5 linked regions of the Homo sapiens genome follow. The protein of the gene in region 5 interacts with the protein of the main gene of each other region in a biochemical or structural test. Each region holds a gene or a part of one and is shown on either strand. Other genes may lie near its edges. The genes, in order: CDX2, CBX5, SIN3B, NR4A2 and SMARCA2.

Region 1 (4,037 bases), on a different chromosome or scaffold from region 5:
CACGCGGTTGCTGAAACCGAGCTGGGCGCGCGCGGGGGCCGAATCTCGCCGCCTCCGCGCTCCTGTCGGGGCAGCTCCCGATCCCGGGCTGCGCGGCTTCGGTCCCCAAGACGGCCACTTCCAGCCCTAGGCCCCTTGGCCGCAGCGCTTCCCAAACCAAGAGAGATCCTTTCTCAACTCAGAGCTTTTCATTAGCAGTCGTTAATAATGGCCCTGAGTTGCCTTATCATCTCCTGGAAATGAGAAATAAATTTCTTCGGAGAACGTTTCCCTTTGTAAAGGACAGAGAGTTTTAAAGATACAGGTATGATGTAAGACACATAAATACCTAGGTAAGCATTAGCAGAAATTCTCTTTTCCTTATATTTAAGTATAATAAACATACAAGTGTAGCTCAATGAATTTTCACAAACTGACATTCTGTGTAACCAGCAGCCTAAGAAACTGCTTTACCAACGATCCCCTAGCTCGCCTCCAGTTATGCACGCCAATAACCACTAGCCTAACTTCTACCACATGCCCATTACTTCTGTAGTTTAAAACTTCTGATTCTTGAATGTAAACGTTTAACAATAAATCGCTTGAATTTAACTCAAATTTCAAATGTAAGATGAAGTCAGAGATGCAGCCTGAATCTAGGATCATAATTTGTCTTGTGCGGAGGGCGAGTAATTTCCTTGGGCAAGAAAATAACTGGAGGTGACAGTTGTTTGGGGCTGCAGTCGTCCGGGCCAGGAGCACAGGGCGGGAAGGAATGGCCCATCTCTTAGGGCTCTCTGCTTGTCACCTACCAGGTTGGTCAGAAACGTTCTCATCAAAGCAATGGTTCTCTTTTCTTTTCTCTTTGGGACAGAAGGAGTTTCTTGACCGCCCTCTTCCCTGCAAATGCATAAACAACCACTGCTCCTGTCTCCAAGCTCAGATTCCTACCAAGATAGCCTTTTCTCTTCCCCTCTCTTTTGTAAGTCTCTTGATTTCATTCTTTGAACCTGTGATTGGAGGTTAAAGTGCACCAGGTTGGAAGGAGGAAGCTCTTAACAATAAAGGTTTGAATATTTAGCTGTGTCAGGTCGCTGCCCTCTCACGAGCCTCCCTCCCCTTTATCTTTTAAAATGCAAATTATGTTTCGAGGGGTTGTGCGTAGAGTGCGCGCTGCGCCTCGACGTCTCCAACCATTGGTGTCTGTGTCATTACTAATAGAGTCTTGTAAACACTCGTTAATCACGGAAGGCCGCCGGCCTGGGGCTCCGCACGCCAGCCTGTGGCGGGTCTTCCCCGCCTCTGCAGCCTAGTGGGAAGGAGGTGGGAGGAAAGAAGGAAGAAAGGGAGGGAGGGAGGAGGCAGGCCAGAGGGAGGGACCGCCTCGGAGGCAGAAGAGCCGCGAGGAGCCAGCGGAGCACCGCGGGCTGGGGCGCAGCCACCCGCCGCTCCTCGAGTCCCCTCGCCCCTTTCCCTTCGTGCCCCCCGGCAGCCTCCAGCGTCGGTCCCCAGGCAGCATGGTGAGGTCTGCTCCCGGACCCTCGCCACCATGTACGTGAGCTACCTCCTGGACAAGGACGTGAGCATGTACCCTAGCTCCGTGCGCCACTCTGGCGGCCTCAACCTGGCGCCGCAGAACTTCGTCAGCCCCCCGCAGTACCCGGACTACGGCGGTTACCACGTGGCGGCCGCAGCTGCAGCGGCAGCGAACTTGGACAGCGCGCAGTCCCCGGGGCCATCCTGGCCGGCAGCGTATGGCGCCCCACTCCGGGAGGACTGGAATGGCTACGCGCCCGGAGGCGCCGCGGCCGCCGCCAACGCCGTGGCTCACGGCCTCAACGGTGGCTCCCCGGCCGCAGCCATGGGCTACAGCAGCCCCGCAGACTACCATCCGCACCACCACCCGCATCACCACCCGCACCACCCGGCCGCCGCGCCTTCCTGCGCTTCTGGGCTGCTGCAAACGCTCAACCCCGGCCCTCCTGGGCCCGCCGCCACCGCTGCCGCCGAGCAGCTGTCTCCCGGCGGCCAGCGGCGGAACCTGTGCGAGTGGATGCGGAAGCCGGCGCAGCAGTCCCTCGGCAGCCAAGGTAAGCAGAGGCTGCGCCCCTTCGGAGGGTGCTTGGGAAGGCGCGGGTCGAGCCAGTGGCTGCTGCGCGTCGCGCGTCCAGTGCGCACAGGGGCGTCCCGGGCTGTCTGGGAGCTCGGCGCCAGGAGGGGCACGGCCCGGAGACAAATTCGGGGGCCTCTGGCCCGTCGGGGCTTCTCTGACCTACTGAGCCTGGGAGTGAATATTCTGAGTCTCAACACCGTGTTCAGGCGTCCTCTTTCCAAGAGCTCCTCATTCGCAACCCCGGGACACCTTCGGGAAGCTCCGGGGAATGTCGGCGTGAGCACTGCTGGACGCCGGCAGAATCGCGTCCTCCGGCACTTGCTGCGGCATGCATTCCTTGCGTGGCTCCTGGCCGCCGAGGAGAGAGGGAGGCTCGAACCTTCTTGGGCTAGGTCTAGGCCATTTATCTCCGCTCTCTCTTTCCCCATCTGAGCCATCTAAGAAGAGAAGTGACCTGGGGGGGTCGGAGGATGGCTAGGCTGTGTGTGGGACCGGGTTTGGCCACTCGGGCCAATTCAAGGTACAGCGAGCAGGCAGACCAGGGAGAGCTGCTGTCGCTGGGAAGAAGGTGCTAGCCCCAGCTGCTAAGGCGACGGGGGCGCGCCCCGTCTCTGAACCTCTGACCTGTGAAGGGGTCATTTCAAGCAAAAGCTGGAAGGCTAGGGGCAAGAAGCCTAGGGGCAGGCGTCTGCGGAGAGAGCAGGGAGACGGGGAGGAAACCCTGGTGGGAATTAAGCCGCCGCTCCAGGTAGGGGTCATTTCTCCCAAAGCTTCCTTTCAAGGGTGTCAGGGATGTCTGTGAGTGTGTGTGTGCAACTGAAAAAGATCCTAGGTTTGCCGGACTGTGGGGCTCATTGACTCTGGGTCTGCCCCTTCTGGTGTTCGAGTGTGCCTAGAGGTGGCAAGGAAGTGCGGTGGGGAGAGTCCTAGTTGAGTGCCCCTTTTAAAGTCTTTCCCCAGCCCTCAGCGCTTCCGCTTTTCTTGCTTCGCTCCTTGATGCCCCAATTGGGCAGGCACGCTGGTTATGGGCACTTTGCAGAAGTTTATAGCCAATTACAACTGTATAAATCAAAGCGCCCTTTGGGGGCTGTCTCTGGGCATCGGTTTCTGCGTCACTGTGCACATGCTAGGGAGAGTCCTGGTGGGAATGCCGCCGACCGGGGAGAAGGCCACAGATCAGCCTCGGGTGAGCCTCAGAGCTTTGGCTTGGTCCCTTCTCCTAGAGGAGGCGCCTTTCTCCTAGCAGGGGCTCCCAGATCCTGGCTCCCAAAGACCCACTTTCTACAGCCCCTGTCTGGGGCGCGGTTGGCGGGGGTGGCGCACGCCCTAAGGAAGACCTTTGCGTGTCCCGGGAGAGCGGCCGCGGGGTGAGGGCCGGGAAGGGGGCGGGAGGGAAGCCGCCAGAGCCCAGGCCGCGGGGTCAGCAGATGAGAGGCCGCTGTGAAGTCCTGCGCCGAGGTGGCAAGGCCGCAGTCGGCGCCGGGTGCCCTTGTGATGTTAATGTGGGGTGGCCGCAGCCCGCGGGCCGGAGCCGGGCTCCTCTGCGGAGCGTCATCTGTCAAGGTGTGGGGGTGGAGGGGGGGACGCGGCCTGGCTTGCTTTGATATACACCTTCCCAGCCCTGCCATTGTCTCTTTTAGGGCCCGGAAAGAGGGTGGTGACTTTCGCAGTCAATAATGAATTCTGACAAGTCCCTCTCATCCCTCCCCTCCATAGCCCCGCTCCTAGGTTCCCAGGGGGTGTGGGGCGCCTCCAAGGCCCTTGGGGCATGGGTCGAAGAGCGCTCAGGGTCTGGTCATCGCGTTGCCCGGCACGTCCGGGACACTGAAGGGGCAGCACCCGAGCAAGGGTCGCTCCGAGACACTTCCAGGCGAGTCTCCCTCCCGGGGTGTTCGGCTGAGGGAACTGCCCTGCGCCTCAGCTCCGGAGGTGTCCTCTGTGGCTC
Region 2 (2,362 bases), on a different chromosome or scaffold from region 5:
GTTAAAGATGTAATTTTATTTTCAAAACATCTATAACATGACTTTCAGAAGCAGTTCATTTTTCCAAGATTCCTCACATTATACTAGATAAATAATAGGCCCTCAGTTAATACCCTTCAGTTATTGAATTAATCTAGTTTGTGGAATGAGGTGTATCCTGCCAACTTCCCTCTGCTCCCAAGTACACTCTGAGAGGTAAAATGCTCTGGGAAATGGAACAAGAATCGAGTGGATGCTGACTCTGTGTGCCCACCTCCTCAACTGATTGATAATGGTTGACCTTGGGCAAGTCACTTCTTTCAATGCCTCAGTTCCCCATCTGTCAAATGGGGTTAATAATACTGACCTACCTCACAGGGGTGTTGTTGTGAGGCATTGTAAATCAAAGTTAATAGAATACTTCAGGGTCCTCTGTGGAGGATGTCTTGAGCCAGAGTTTAAGCCTGACACACAGGCTTTGGTCCTCACTGAGCTGTCTCCAAGACTGGAACTACTTAGTGACTCGGCAAATTTTCTGCCCCCCACCCCTCATCAAAGCTGCTAGTTCAGATGTTGACAGTGTTTTCATGAATGTTGGAATCTTACTAGTCCAGACTTACTTAGGATGTTGTTGGGGAAGGCACTTGGGATTTTCTGTGTCTTGCATTCACAGAGGGAGGCCATTTCAGATTCAAGAGCATTGGATTAGGGAATCGTGAGGCAGGGATGCTACTGCGTATTTCTCTCTGCAGGTTGGGGATTAAAGTTCCTTTCCCCATGGGTTTGAAGCAGACTCAGACTGTCTCAGGATCAAAGCAACCCTCAATGGTTTTGATTTATGTCATTGCTTACCACTCCCCAACCAATCCCAGGACAGCTGGGTCACTGTACCCCTTTGTGGTATCTGTACCTGGGCCTCTCCTTCCTCATAGGGACCAGCTGATTGAATAAATGTGACCACCTTATTTCCACCCCCCACCCCCAAAAGCTACATTGGAATTATTTTTCCTAGAAATGTGTATAACACTCAGAATTGGGCATTGATCCTTAAAGCTTCATCCCATTCACCGTATTCAACATCTGTCATCTCTTAGTGTCTGCAGTCTGAACCTAACCTTGACCTTTTTTCCCTCTGGTTTGAGAAAACTTTGGACACTATTTCTACTTGGCCAGGTGTGGGCTCAAGAGCCTTACTCTTTCCATCTCAGTTTAGGGGCGCAGCCAGCTCCTCTTCCCAATAGGGCTCTTTCTGCTTTCCCTCTCCTTGGCCCTAGATTTGTAATCCATGAAAAAGCACAAGGTCCTGGCTCCTTGCGGTCACATTCTGGTTCTCTGTGTTTTGTGGACTCTGCTCTCACTGTTCACCCAGCACTAGCAGTACCAGATGGTTCTGTGGAGTCCTGGGGAATGGAGAGAGCACAGTCTGACTCCCTGCCAAGTAGCCAGGAGTTGACTTGCCCATGGTCCGCTGGCTTTCCCACCACTTCCTACAGGATGGGATCTAAGAGACTCAAGAGCTGGGTTTCTTTCAGCACTCTGTACTGTCCCAAATAGCAAACAAATCACTTTGTAGCCAGATTTCTGAATGGAAATGAGAAATTGAATTCTCCATGGACTTTTAGGTTTATGGGGGAGTTTTAGCTGTGTTTCTTGGTTTTATTTCAGCCAAACATGTCTGCTTTTGATTTTTTTTTTAAAGTATAAGTGGTCTATATATATGTTCACCTTTTAAATGTAAATGTTTAAAAAGTAAGCATTTATGTGTTTCCATAACTGACATCTGATGCAGACCTCATTCTCTCCCCCTCTTCTACCCTCCTCTTTTCCCCCTTTTCATACTCTTGTATTGGTTCTAATAAATGGTTGCTTTTCAAATATGGATTCTGAGTGGTGGTTTAAAGATCTGGGTCTTATGCCCCTTCTTTAATTTGGGCCCTGGAGTGTCAGCTCAATTTCTGAAAGAGCAACAAGACTTGGAGAACATGGGCTTCTTTTCTAAGGATTATTGGTCTCTGACTTTCTGCAAATAACCACAGGTTGGCGCAAGCCTGAGGAAATAAGATAATGCGTATCCTGTTTCCTACTCTTATTTCCTTAACTGGTTCAGTGTGTACCTTTCCTGGTTTCCATGCTCTTCTCTGCTCCTAATGGTTCAGAGAATAAATATTAGGCTTCAGCAACCTAGGGATCCCTGGAAGAGTCATCTCATGGCTATTAGAACTTATGGAATACCACATCAAGCAAATGCAGTCTAAATCAGGTTTGAAAATATGTGAATTTGTAAACTTTGTATTTTATCTTTCTGATTTGCTTCACAAATACCAAAGAAACTTCTCTGAGGATGGAAGGCTTGCAGGTCAGGAACATGGTGTGAGGTCAGTTG
Region 3 (3,521 bases), on a different chromosome or scaffold from region 5:
CATGTTGGCCAACCTGGTCTCAAACTCCTGAACTCAGGTGATCCGCCTGCCTCAGCCTCCCCAAGTGCTGGGATTACAGGCATGGGCCACCATGCCTGGCCTCCACAGCATTCTCGCTGCCATCCCTGGGTTGCCGGCCAGATTAGGCAGCCTCGGAGGGTGGCAGTGAACACCAGCTACTCGGGTTTCCTGGTGATTCCCACATTTGCCCCAGGGGTGGCAGGTGAGGGCTGTTGGGCCCCATGGGGGCATTTGTTGGGGCTCTGTCATGCCAGAGTTTGGCCTGCGTGACTTTGCGCTCTCCAGGAGGCATATGGATGAGGCGGTGTGTCTCCGCAGGTGAAGTGGAGCTGGAGGAGTACTACCCGGCCTTCCTGGACATGGTGCGGAGCCTGCTGGAGGGCAGCATCGACCCCACGCAGTACGAGGACACCCTACGCGAGATGTTCACCATCCATGCCTACGTGGGCTTCACCATGGACAAGCTGGTGCAGAACATTGCGCGGCAGGTGAGCCGGGCCGGGGTGGGGCCGGCCCTGAGGACGGCGGAAATGGCTCTACCATCATTTCACTCCCCGCTCGGGAGGGGGCCCGTGGTCAGCACAGCAAACCTATCCTGTTTTTTCTTAATTGAGACAAAATTCGCATAACGTAAAATTAACCATTTTGAAGTGTACAGTTTGGTAACATTTGGTACATTCACAATATTGTGCAACCACCACCTCTGTCTAGTTCCAGAACATTTCATCTTTCCAAAAGGAGACCCCATCCCCATCAGCAGCCACTGCCCATTCCCCTGCCCCGAGCCCCTGACATCCAGTCAACTGCTTTCTGCCTCTGTATTTCCCTCGTGCTTCATTCCTTTTTATGGCTCTGTAATACTCCATTGCGTGGGTAGCTACGTTTTGTTTCTATCTCTTGGTGGACATCTGGGCTGTGGCTGCCTTATAGAGATTGTGAGCAATGCTGCTCTGAACATTTGTGTACAAGTTTTTGTTCCGTGTCCCTGTTGACAAACCTTTCTTGAGGTTAAATTGACAACATGGAAAAAACCTTAACCCACTTATCCTGAGGGAGGGTGGGAATAGTGATTTCATCTGCGTTGGTTTTAGTAGTAGCAAAAACCCAGGCCCCACTGAATGTCAACACAAGGAAACTGGTCACGTAAATATAAACAGCAGACGTCCCAGACGAGCTGGGTGTGGTTCCAGGACATGGGTCCTGCCTGGTTTCTGCCAGAATCATTGTTCATGGTGACCTCCATTTCCTGGTCACCAAGTAAGGCTGTTCATCATAAAGTGGAAAAAAAGCTGGAAAAAAAATAATGCCATTACTCTCCCACCCAGACACAGCCACGAGAAGCATTTCAGACAGGACGTTTCCTTCCAGGTTTTAAAGACTGCTTAATGGAGCTAAAATACCCAAGCAGAAAAGTCCCCAAATTTGAAGGGGGCAGATGGATGGGCTTTTCATCAACAGAACCCCTGCCCCTGTGTCCCCACCCAGCCACCTGCCACCCATGGACACCCACAACCCTGATTTCTTTTTCTTCTTCTTCTTTTTTTTTTTTTGAGACAGAGTTTTGCTCTTGTCTCCCAGGCTGGAGTACAATGGCACAATCTCTGCTCACAGCAACCTCTGCCTCCTGGTTTCAAGCAATTCTCCTGCCTCAGCCTCCTGAGTAGCTGAGATTACAGGTGCGCACCACCACGCCTGGCTAATTTTTGTATTTTTAGTAGAGAGGGGGTTTCACCATGTTGGGCAGGCTGGTCTCGAACTCCTGACCTCAGGTGATCCGCCTCCCTTGGCCTCCTAAAGTGCTGGGATTACAGGCGTGAGCCACCGCACCGGCATCACAACCCTGATTTCTACAGAGAGGTAGATCCCTGGCCTCGAGCTGTGTGTTAACAGCAGCACACAGCGCCCAGCCGCATCCTGGGAGCGTCATTCTGTGAGATTCCTGTGTTGAGATGAACCGGCCAAGGATTCCGAGGAACGACCCCCGATTCCGTCCACCTGTCTCCTGAGGACAGGCATGGGCGGTGCCCCGTGGGTGTGTCTGCGGTGGCCGTCTATGTACATTTCTGCTGCTGCCCTTGGGGTAAGGCACAGAGAGGTGTGTCCCGCTGATGGCAACTTTCCGTTTCCTGGGTCACTCGTACCAGTGCTGTGCGAGGCCGCACTCTGTGTCCTCCCTGGGGCTCAGGGGCGTCTCTCCATCAGCTGGGAGTTCAAATCTCGGTGGGCTCACGTTGCATTTCCCTGATGGCAAATGTGGCTGGGGCCCTGTCCTTTCATGGCCGTTGGGACATCTTTTCTCATGGAAAGCTATCCACGGTGTTTGCGCCTGTTTCCGTTGCGTCTGCCTTGTTGGTGACTGGGAGGATTTCTGTGTCTGGCCATGAGGACTTAGTGAAACCCATAGCTGCGTTCTGACACCTTCGCTTCAGCCCCCTCCACTTTCCCTCCGTGTGCCCGAAATGGGTCCCTGCCCATCACCATCCACAGCAGTGGCCACTCCCCAGGTGAGGGAAACACGCACGGGGCAGCCTGGAGAGAGGACACCCAGGGCCCAGCACATGGTGTTGGGGAAGTGACGCAGGGGACGCCAGGGGGCTGGCAGTCTGTCCCCTCCCCCCCCCCCCAGGCTGGGCACCCCTCATGGGCCATGGCTTCGGGGACAGCAACCTTGCTTGTGACACCAGGAGATTGGACCAGATGGTTTATGGAAAGCATTGATTAATGCTTTAAAAAAATCCCCCCCTTCCATAAACAACTCCTCTAGAACCTGTTAAAAACAAAGCAATGAAAATGGGGCTGTCTGGCTGGAGCTGTAGTGAGAGCCACATGCTGCCCTGCTGTCCCAGCTGTGGCTGCACCACACCCCAGCTGCATCTCCCTGGGCCAGGTGCTCACTGCGGGCCCCTCCACACTGTTTGTAACCTGCCTCGAGGCCATGTCTGGACTCTGCCTCCCTTTTTCTTAAAAATTAGCATTGCTGTTTTTTAGCAGTAGCAGTTGGCATTCAGTGGGCACTTGCTGTGTGCCAGGTACTGTCTGAAACCTATGCGTGTCCAGGTGTTATTGTATCCATTCAACAAAGCTGCACATGGAACCCCCAAGGAGTGTGGTCCCCTGACCAGGGCCTGGGCTGTGCAGGCGGGTGATTCACACAGCCCTGTCTGCCCCACGATCCCTGCTGTTTCCATTCCTTCCTTCTTCAGTGCAAAGGTAAAAGGAGTAGCAGTGTATTTACAGCCAAGCATTTAGGGGAAAGGAACAGCCTGCACTCAGGCCACCTTCAGCTCATTCCTGGGTTTGCTTTGGAACATATTTTTCCGTGTCTTTTCTGTGTGTTTCTCACACCCGGGCAGGGTTTGCTGGTCTGGCCTGGTCTGTTTTGTTCAGGTCTGGTCTGGTCTAGTTTTGGTCTGGTCTGGTCTGGTCTAGTTTTGGTCTGGCCTGGTCTGGTCTGGTTTGGTTTTGGTTTGGTCTGGTTTGGTCTGGTCTGGTCTGGCTTT
Region 4 (2,913 bases), on a different chromosome or scaffold from region 5:
TACGTGGCCACTACGCACATGATCGAGCAGAGGAAAACGCCAGTCTCCCGCCTCTCCCTCTTCTCCTTTAAGCAATCGCCCCCTGGCACCCCGGTGTCTAGTTGCCAGATGCGCTTCGACGGGCCCCTGCACGTCCCCATGAACCCGGAGCCCGCCGGCAGCCACCACGTGGTGGACGGGCAGACCTTCGCTGTGCCCAACCCCATTCGCAAGCCCGCGTCCATGGGCTTCCCGGGCCTGCAGATCGGCCACGCGTCTCAGCTGCTCGACACGCAGGTGCCCTCACCGCCGTCGCGGGGCTCCCCCTCCAACGAGGGGCTGTGCGCTGTGTGTGGGGACAACGCGGCCTGCCAACACTACGGCGTGCGCACCTGTGAGGGCTGCAAAGGCTTCTTTAAGGTGAGCAATGGCGGGAGCGGAGTAGGCAGGTAGGGAGCCCCTAGTGCCCGGGACCTCGGAGTGTGCCCTCTGCCTTGGTGCCAGTAGCCCAGCCCCAGCTCTCCCGGGACTGCCCAGCTCTCCGGGGTCCGCCGAAGCTGCCCTGCAGGAGACCATGGGCTGCGGCGGGGACTTCCGGGTGTCTGAGAAAGGGAAGCAGAAAGACTGGGAGGCCAGGGTCGCATCCCCCTCGCATTCAGCCGACCCGGCTGGCCCCCGCCCGAAGTTGCTGGAGCCGGAGTTGGAAGAGGGTCATTTGCATGTGCTAGGAGCTGTCTTCCCTGTTCAGAATGAAATTGGTTAGGACAGAGAACCGTGTCTGAGCTAACCAAGTGGAACAGAATTCCCTATGGTCAAATTAAGTGATCTCTTTATTTCGCCATCCTGATTGAATAATCTTATCATTTTAAATAGAGAAGGTCTCCAAGGAATGTAAATAATATGAATGCCCACGGATTTGTATTTACTGAGCGTCTCCTTCTCCTTCTCTTGGCATATAAAACACAGCAAGGAGCGGCAAGGTTAGCTCAAATGTTAACGCTATCAATTTTCTTCTGTTAAATGCCCTGGGGGAGGAAAAAAGAAAAGAAAGAAAGAAAAGGAAGAGAAAAAAATAAAATGGAATTGTGTGTATGTGTTTGTTTGTGGGGAGGAATCGTAGACCCCAGTCACATAACAGAAATTTTCTCCGAGTTGCCTGATTTTCAAAAGAAGAAAAAAAATGTTGGTCTATATTGTCTCCTTTTGCAGCGCACAGTGCAAAAAAATGCAAAATACGTGTGTTTAGCAAATAAAAACTGCCCAGTGGACAAGCGTCGCCGGAATCGCTGTCAGTACTGCCGATTTCAGAAGTGCCTGGCTGTTGGGATGGTCAAAGAAGGTAGGCTGAGGGGAGCTGCCGACCCTCCAGTTTGCGCCTTTAGGAAACCACTGCTCATACTCCAGCATCACGTTCCACTTCCCGGTGCTGGGGATCTCCGACTCCCCCTCAGTATGGCCTCCAGGACCCTGCAGCTGCCTGCTTGCCCGGCCTTCCCTAGAGAAAGCCGCCAGGCCCTTCTCTCCTTTAACTATACGACCCATTTGGAGGAAGACATAAAATAACCCCGCATTTTTTAATGCTTCTAGTCAGTGAAGGCTTTACAAGCACTGGGGCCCTCAGCCGCTCAGCCTGGTGCCCCGCGGCTGCGGCCTTCCCCGGGGAGGGACCGAGGCAGCAGCTGGGCCTGGGCTCGGAAAAGCGGCGCTAACAGGGCTCTTCCTTTGCAGTGGTTCGCACAGACAGTTTAAAAGGCCGGAGAGGTCGTTTGCCCTCGAAACCGAAGAGCCCACAGGAGCCCTCTCCCCCTTCGCCCCCGGTGAGTCTGATCAGTGCCCTCGTCAGGGCCCATGTCGACTCCAACCCGGCTATGACCAGCCTGGACTATTCCAGGGTAAGAAGCTGGCGGGGGGGATATCATGTGGACAAACCGACAGATGGGCAGGACCCCTCCCCACATCCGTCATTAACTCTCAGATTCAACGGGGGTAAAGAAGGCAAGCAAGGCTGTATATGCCTCGCAGCTCTGGCCAGGGCCTCAAGATTCAGATCTTCAGACAATCCATGTAGCTGGGGGCATAGACATGAGGACAGGATGGAGGAAGGAGGAGAGGGACACGCCACAGGGTTTGAAGCTGTGTGAATTCCCACTACCCCACTACCCCATCGCCCCTCCTCTTCCATATACACCAGTGCCTCTACCATGAAATCCAGGGGCTGTGCAAACTCTCCCCCTTCCCAATCTACTTTATTCCCAGTCCTCCATAGAGATAGATGCTTTAATCCTCATCCTTCCTGGCACTGTGCTGGGGAAGGATGTGGGGGCCTGTCTGGGGGTCAGGGAAGGGAAGGAGAGGGTGTAAAGAATGCCAGTGGGGTGGGGGATCAAGTGGTCAGATCCTTTTTACTCCAGCTGTGAAAAATATGCGGGCTTTAATTGGAGGAAGTATGTTGAGCAAACCTGGTAGGGACTGCAATTTTATTAAGATTTGCAAAAGGGCGTCTCAGCTCGAGGCCCACTCTGGGACTAGCATGAATACTAACATGTCAATTGTTTTGTGGAGATAAGAGTGAACGTTTCCCAGGGCTGGATGGCACTGTATTTAGTCTGTATGGAAATGGCAATTTACATATTTAAAGCAGCGACCTCGTAGCACCATCCCTAATTGAATTAATTGCCCCGGAACATCTAATTTCCTTACTGGTCAGAGAGAGGTTTAATTGTTATAAAAACCTGGCTCCCCTATTAGAAACGGGGTTAGCAATTTCACGGGTTATATATTTTAGAGAACCTCATTAAGTGCTTTTTAAAATGAAATTCCAGTTCCAGGCGAACCCTGACTATCAAATGAGTGGAGATGACACCCAGCATATCCAGCAATTCTATGATCTCCTGACTGGCTCCATGGAGATCATCCGGGGCTGGGCAGAGAAGA
Region 5 (3,521 bases):
TCTGGATTGGAGCCCTTATTCCACTTTGTCCTTGCTGGGCAACCGGTGGCCATGTCCTTATCCCTGCTCATGCTCAGTTTTCTCATCTATAAAACTGAGGTCATAAAAATGACCTCCAAGCATGTAAAATGTTTAGCATAGGCTGGGCTCCTAGCAAACACTGTTTTATTTCTTTTATTTATTTATTTTTGAGACAGGGTCTCACTCTGTCACCCAGGCCGGAGTGCAGTGGCATGATCTTAGCTCACTGCAACCTCCACCTCCCAGTAGCTCACTGCAACCTCCACCTCCCAGGTTCAAGTGATTCACCTGCCTCAGCCTCCCGAGTAGCTGGAATTACAGGCGTGTGCCACCACGCCCGGCTAATTTTTATATTTTTAGTAGAGATGGAGTGTCACCATGTTGGCAAGGCTGGTCTCAAACTCCTGGCCTCACGTGATCCACCCGCCTCGGCCTCCCAAAGTGCTGGGATTATAGGCACAAGCCGCCACACCTGACCTGCAAACACTTTCTGAATGTTGCCTTTGAATATTAGCCTACTACACATTTTCTACAACACTGCTGCTAATGCCACCTATCTTCTCTTCTTTACCACGGTGGTTCTCAAACCTGGAGGGCTTGAAGAATATGCCAGTGTTTGATCCAGTAGCCTGTTGTGGGGCCTGAGAATCCGTATTTCTGGCAAATTCCCAGGGGGAACTGATGATGTTGGGCCAAGGACCACACCTTGAGAATCACAGCTTTAGAAAATAATTGTCAAACTGAGTTGGAACTGTGAATTTTGCATAGAATTTTTTTTTTGCCAGGGGAAGAGGGGTGATGACAGGGTACTGTCTTTATTTAAAATGTTGATAGTTTGTTTATCATGGATTTGGGGGGCATTAATTTGGGTTTTTAAAATATTTACCTTTTAGGATATTAGTTGATGACTGGGTTTTGGTGCCCCCTTAAATTTTACACCCAAGGTGCGTGCCTCCATTGTTTGACCCTAGTTCCAGCCGTGACTGATAACCCAAATATTCCAAAGGTTAAGGGTGCTGTCAGAAGTTGAAAATTTCTTCTTAGTGAGGCATGTTGGCTCACAAATATAATCCGAGCACTCTGGGAGGCTGAGGCAGAAGGATAGCTTGAGGCTAGGAGTTCAAGACCAGCCTGGATAACATAGCAAGACCCTATCTCTACAAAAATGTTTGTAAAAAGAAATAGCCAAGTGTGGTGGCACGTGTCTATAGTCCCAGCTACTCAGGAAGCTGAGGCAGGAGGATTGCTTAGTCTAGGTGTTCAAGGCTGCAGTGAGCTATGATCATACCGCTGCCCTCCAGCCTGGGCAACAGAACAAAACTCTATCTAAAAAAAAAATTTTAAATATAATTAATAAATATTTTAAAACATAAAATTTCTTCTTTCCTATGTGTGTCTTCACTGTATACCTCTCAAAGTAAAGTACTAAAACCTATGTTTTACAGTATAAGCCGAGCCCAGTGGCTCATGCCTGTAATCCTAGCACTTTGGGAAGCTGAGGTGGCTGGATCACTTGAAGTCACCAGTTTGAGACAAGCCTGATCAATATATTCATAATAAGTACAAAAATCATGCCACAAAACTGTGTGCTATGTTTTTATAAACAAATTTATGTGTGGAAAAAAAGGTAACGTCTCAAAATATTACATGTATGTAGAGATATAGAATTACACGTTTTTTTACCTTTTCAAATATATTAAAAGTATAGACATGCTTTTAAAAAATTATTAGGTTTCTAATTACATGTTAATACAGATGATTTGGAAAATGTAATGATTTTTGTACTTATTATGAACACTTTCCATGGCAATGAGGGTTTTTCTACAGCAACATATATTAATATGTATAATACATATTAACATTCATTAATGAATGTGAATGTACTGTAACGTGTTAATTATACTCTGTTAATCAGGCTGTTTCCCAATAATGCTGTCCTGAGCATTTTACCCATAGATTATTGAAAAGATGTAAAATGTATGTGATGTATACACATTGCCACAGAGAATGGAGTTTCCATTCTTGCCCTCAACATACATAAGCGACTCTTTCCCAACGTCATTTTCTATTATCTATATTCTAGTTAGTGATTCTGCCTTTTATTTGTTATGAATTTAAACTGTCCCAAATTCATGTAGTTATTCCTTTGTTCTAGCATTTGAATACATCTGCATCATCTATTTTAGCTATATATTTCATTATTTTAGAGCCAGATTTCTAATCTGTTTTCAAAGAGCTGCTCTCTTCCCCCATCCATCAATTTAGTTTAATTTCTCAAGCCTTGGTATATTAATTTTCTATTGCTGCTATAACAAATTACCACAAACTTAGTGACTTTAATACAACACAAACTTATTACCTCTTGTGGGTCACAGGTTCAGCATGAGTCTCCCTGGACTAAGATCAATGTGTCAGCAGCCTGCATTCCTTTCTGGATGCTCTAGATAGGAATCCCATTTCCTTGTTCATCCTGGTTCTCAGCAGAGTTCAATTTCTTGTGTTCGTAGAAACAAAGTTCCCACTTTCTTGCTGGCTGCCAGTGGAAGGCTGTTCCCAACAGTGTTCTTTGGCTCATTGCCTCCCCACCCCTACCCCTTGTTCCAACTTTAAAGCCAGCAATGACAGGTACAGTCCTTCTCATGTTGTGTCTCCATGAATCTCTCTTTTGCGTCTTCCTCTTCCACGTTTAAGGATGCAGATGATTAGACTGGGCCCACCTGGATAATCCACTATAATTTCCCCATCTCAGGGTCAGACAATTAACAGTCTAAAATTCCTTTTGCCATGTAATATAACATATTCAGAGGTTCTTGGATTAGGATATGGACATCTTGTGAGGAGATGATATTCTGTCCACCACACTTGGTAGCTAGAACTTTTCATAGGTGCATATGGTTGTATCATAAAACCTTAGGAAGCTGTTTATAGGGCTCACCTAATGGTCCAGTTTATTAGCCTGCTTGTCCATAGTCTGTCAGGTGGGTTTTTTGGAGAGACATATCCACTGACGCGTGCCTGACAGCATTAGAGTGCGCCACACTCCAAGGCACATTTAGATTACGCTCTCAAGGATACATTTTCTTACCCCTATTGCCTGTCTTCTGCCCATTCATTTCCTATACTCCTGTGTCAGGGAGAGCCCACACCTGTATAAATGGACATATTTCACTTTGTCTTTCCACACTGTTTAGAAATGCCCATTATGACTGGCTTCTTTCATCTATTTCTTTCGACGTCCTACATCTTTCCGTTTTCATTAGTAGGTAGGCCTTTTCATCTCCAGTCTCTTCTTCTTCTCCTAAGTTACTCCACCCAAAGCAAAGGGCCCCACCTTATAGCTTGTCAAGCAGCAGACAGTGGGTATAATAGATAGAAGCCTTGGCTAGGAGTACTATTTTGTGTATTAGGATTTGGAATGGAGGAAAGGCAAATGCTACCACCACACTTGAGTTCATAACAGCACAGCTCTCATCTCTTCTGTTAGCTTATGTTTCTGTGGG

Evidence for each region.
Region 1: the proteins of SMARCA2 (region 5) and CDX2 form a complex in vitro, tested with the Homo sapiens proteins (one study listed by BioGRID).
Region 2: the proteins of SMARCA2 (region 5) and CBX5 form a complex in vitro, tested with the Homo sapiens proteins (one study listed by BioGRID).
Region 3: the proteins of SMARCA2 (region 5) and SIN3B form a complex in vitro, tested with the Homo sapiens proteins (one study listed by BioGRID).
Region 4: the proteins of SMARCA2 (region 5) and NR4A2 form a complex in vitro, tested with the Homo sapiens proteins (one study listed by BioGRID).

What each region holds. Positions count from the first base shown.
Region 1 is NC_000013.11:27,966,498-27,970,534, reverse strand, and holds the start of CDX2 (homeobox protein CDX-2), read left to right. Parts: upstream 1-1,219; 5' UTR 1,220-1,528; coding exon 1,529-2,069; intron 2,070-2,241; exon of another isoform or gene 2,242-3,088; coding exon of another isoform or gene 3,089-3,278; intron 3,279-4,037.
Region 2 is NC_000012.12:54,230,438-54,232,799, reverse strand, and holds the end of CBX5 (chromobox protein homolog 5), read left to right. Parts: 3' UTR 1-1,858; downstream 1,859-2,362. UniProt on the Homo sapiens protein: Component of heterochromatin that recognizes and binds histone H3 tails methylated at 'Lys-9' (H3K9me), leading to epigenetic repression. In contrast, it is excluded from chromatin when 'Tyr-41' of histone H3 is phosphorylated (H3Y41ph).
Region 3 is NC_000019.10:16,870,890-16,874,410, forward strand, and holds part of SIN3B (paired amphipathic helix protein Sin3b), read left to right. Parts: intron 1-339; coding exon 340-509; intron 510-3,521.
Region 4 is NC_000002.12:156,326,809-156,329,721, reverse strand, and holds part of NR4A2 (nuclear receptor subfamily 4 group A member 2), read left to right. Parts: coding exon 1-399; intron 400-1,188; coding exon 1,189-1,318; intron 1,319-1,707; coding exon 1,708-1,871; intron 1,872-2,801; coding exon 2,802-2,913. UniProt on the Homo sapiens protein: Transcriptional regulator which is important for the differentiation and maintenance of meso-diencephalic dopaminergic (mdDA) neurons during development.
Region 5 is NC_000009.12:2,186,327-2,189,847, forward strand, and holds part of SMARCA2 (SWI/SNF-related matrix-associated actin-dependent regulator of chromatin subfamily A member 2), read left to right. Parts: intron 1-3,521. UniProt on the Homo sapiens protein: ATPase involved in transcriptional activation and repression of select genes by chromatin remodeling (alteration of DNA-nucleosome topology).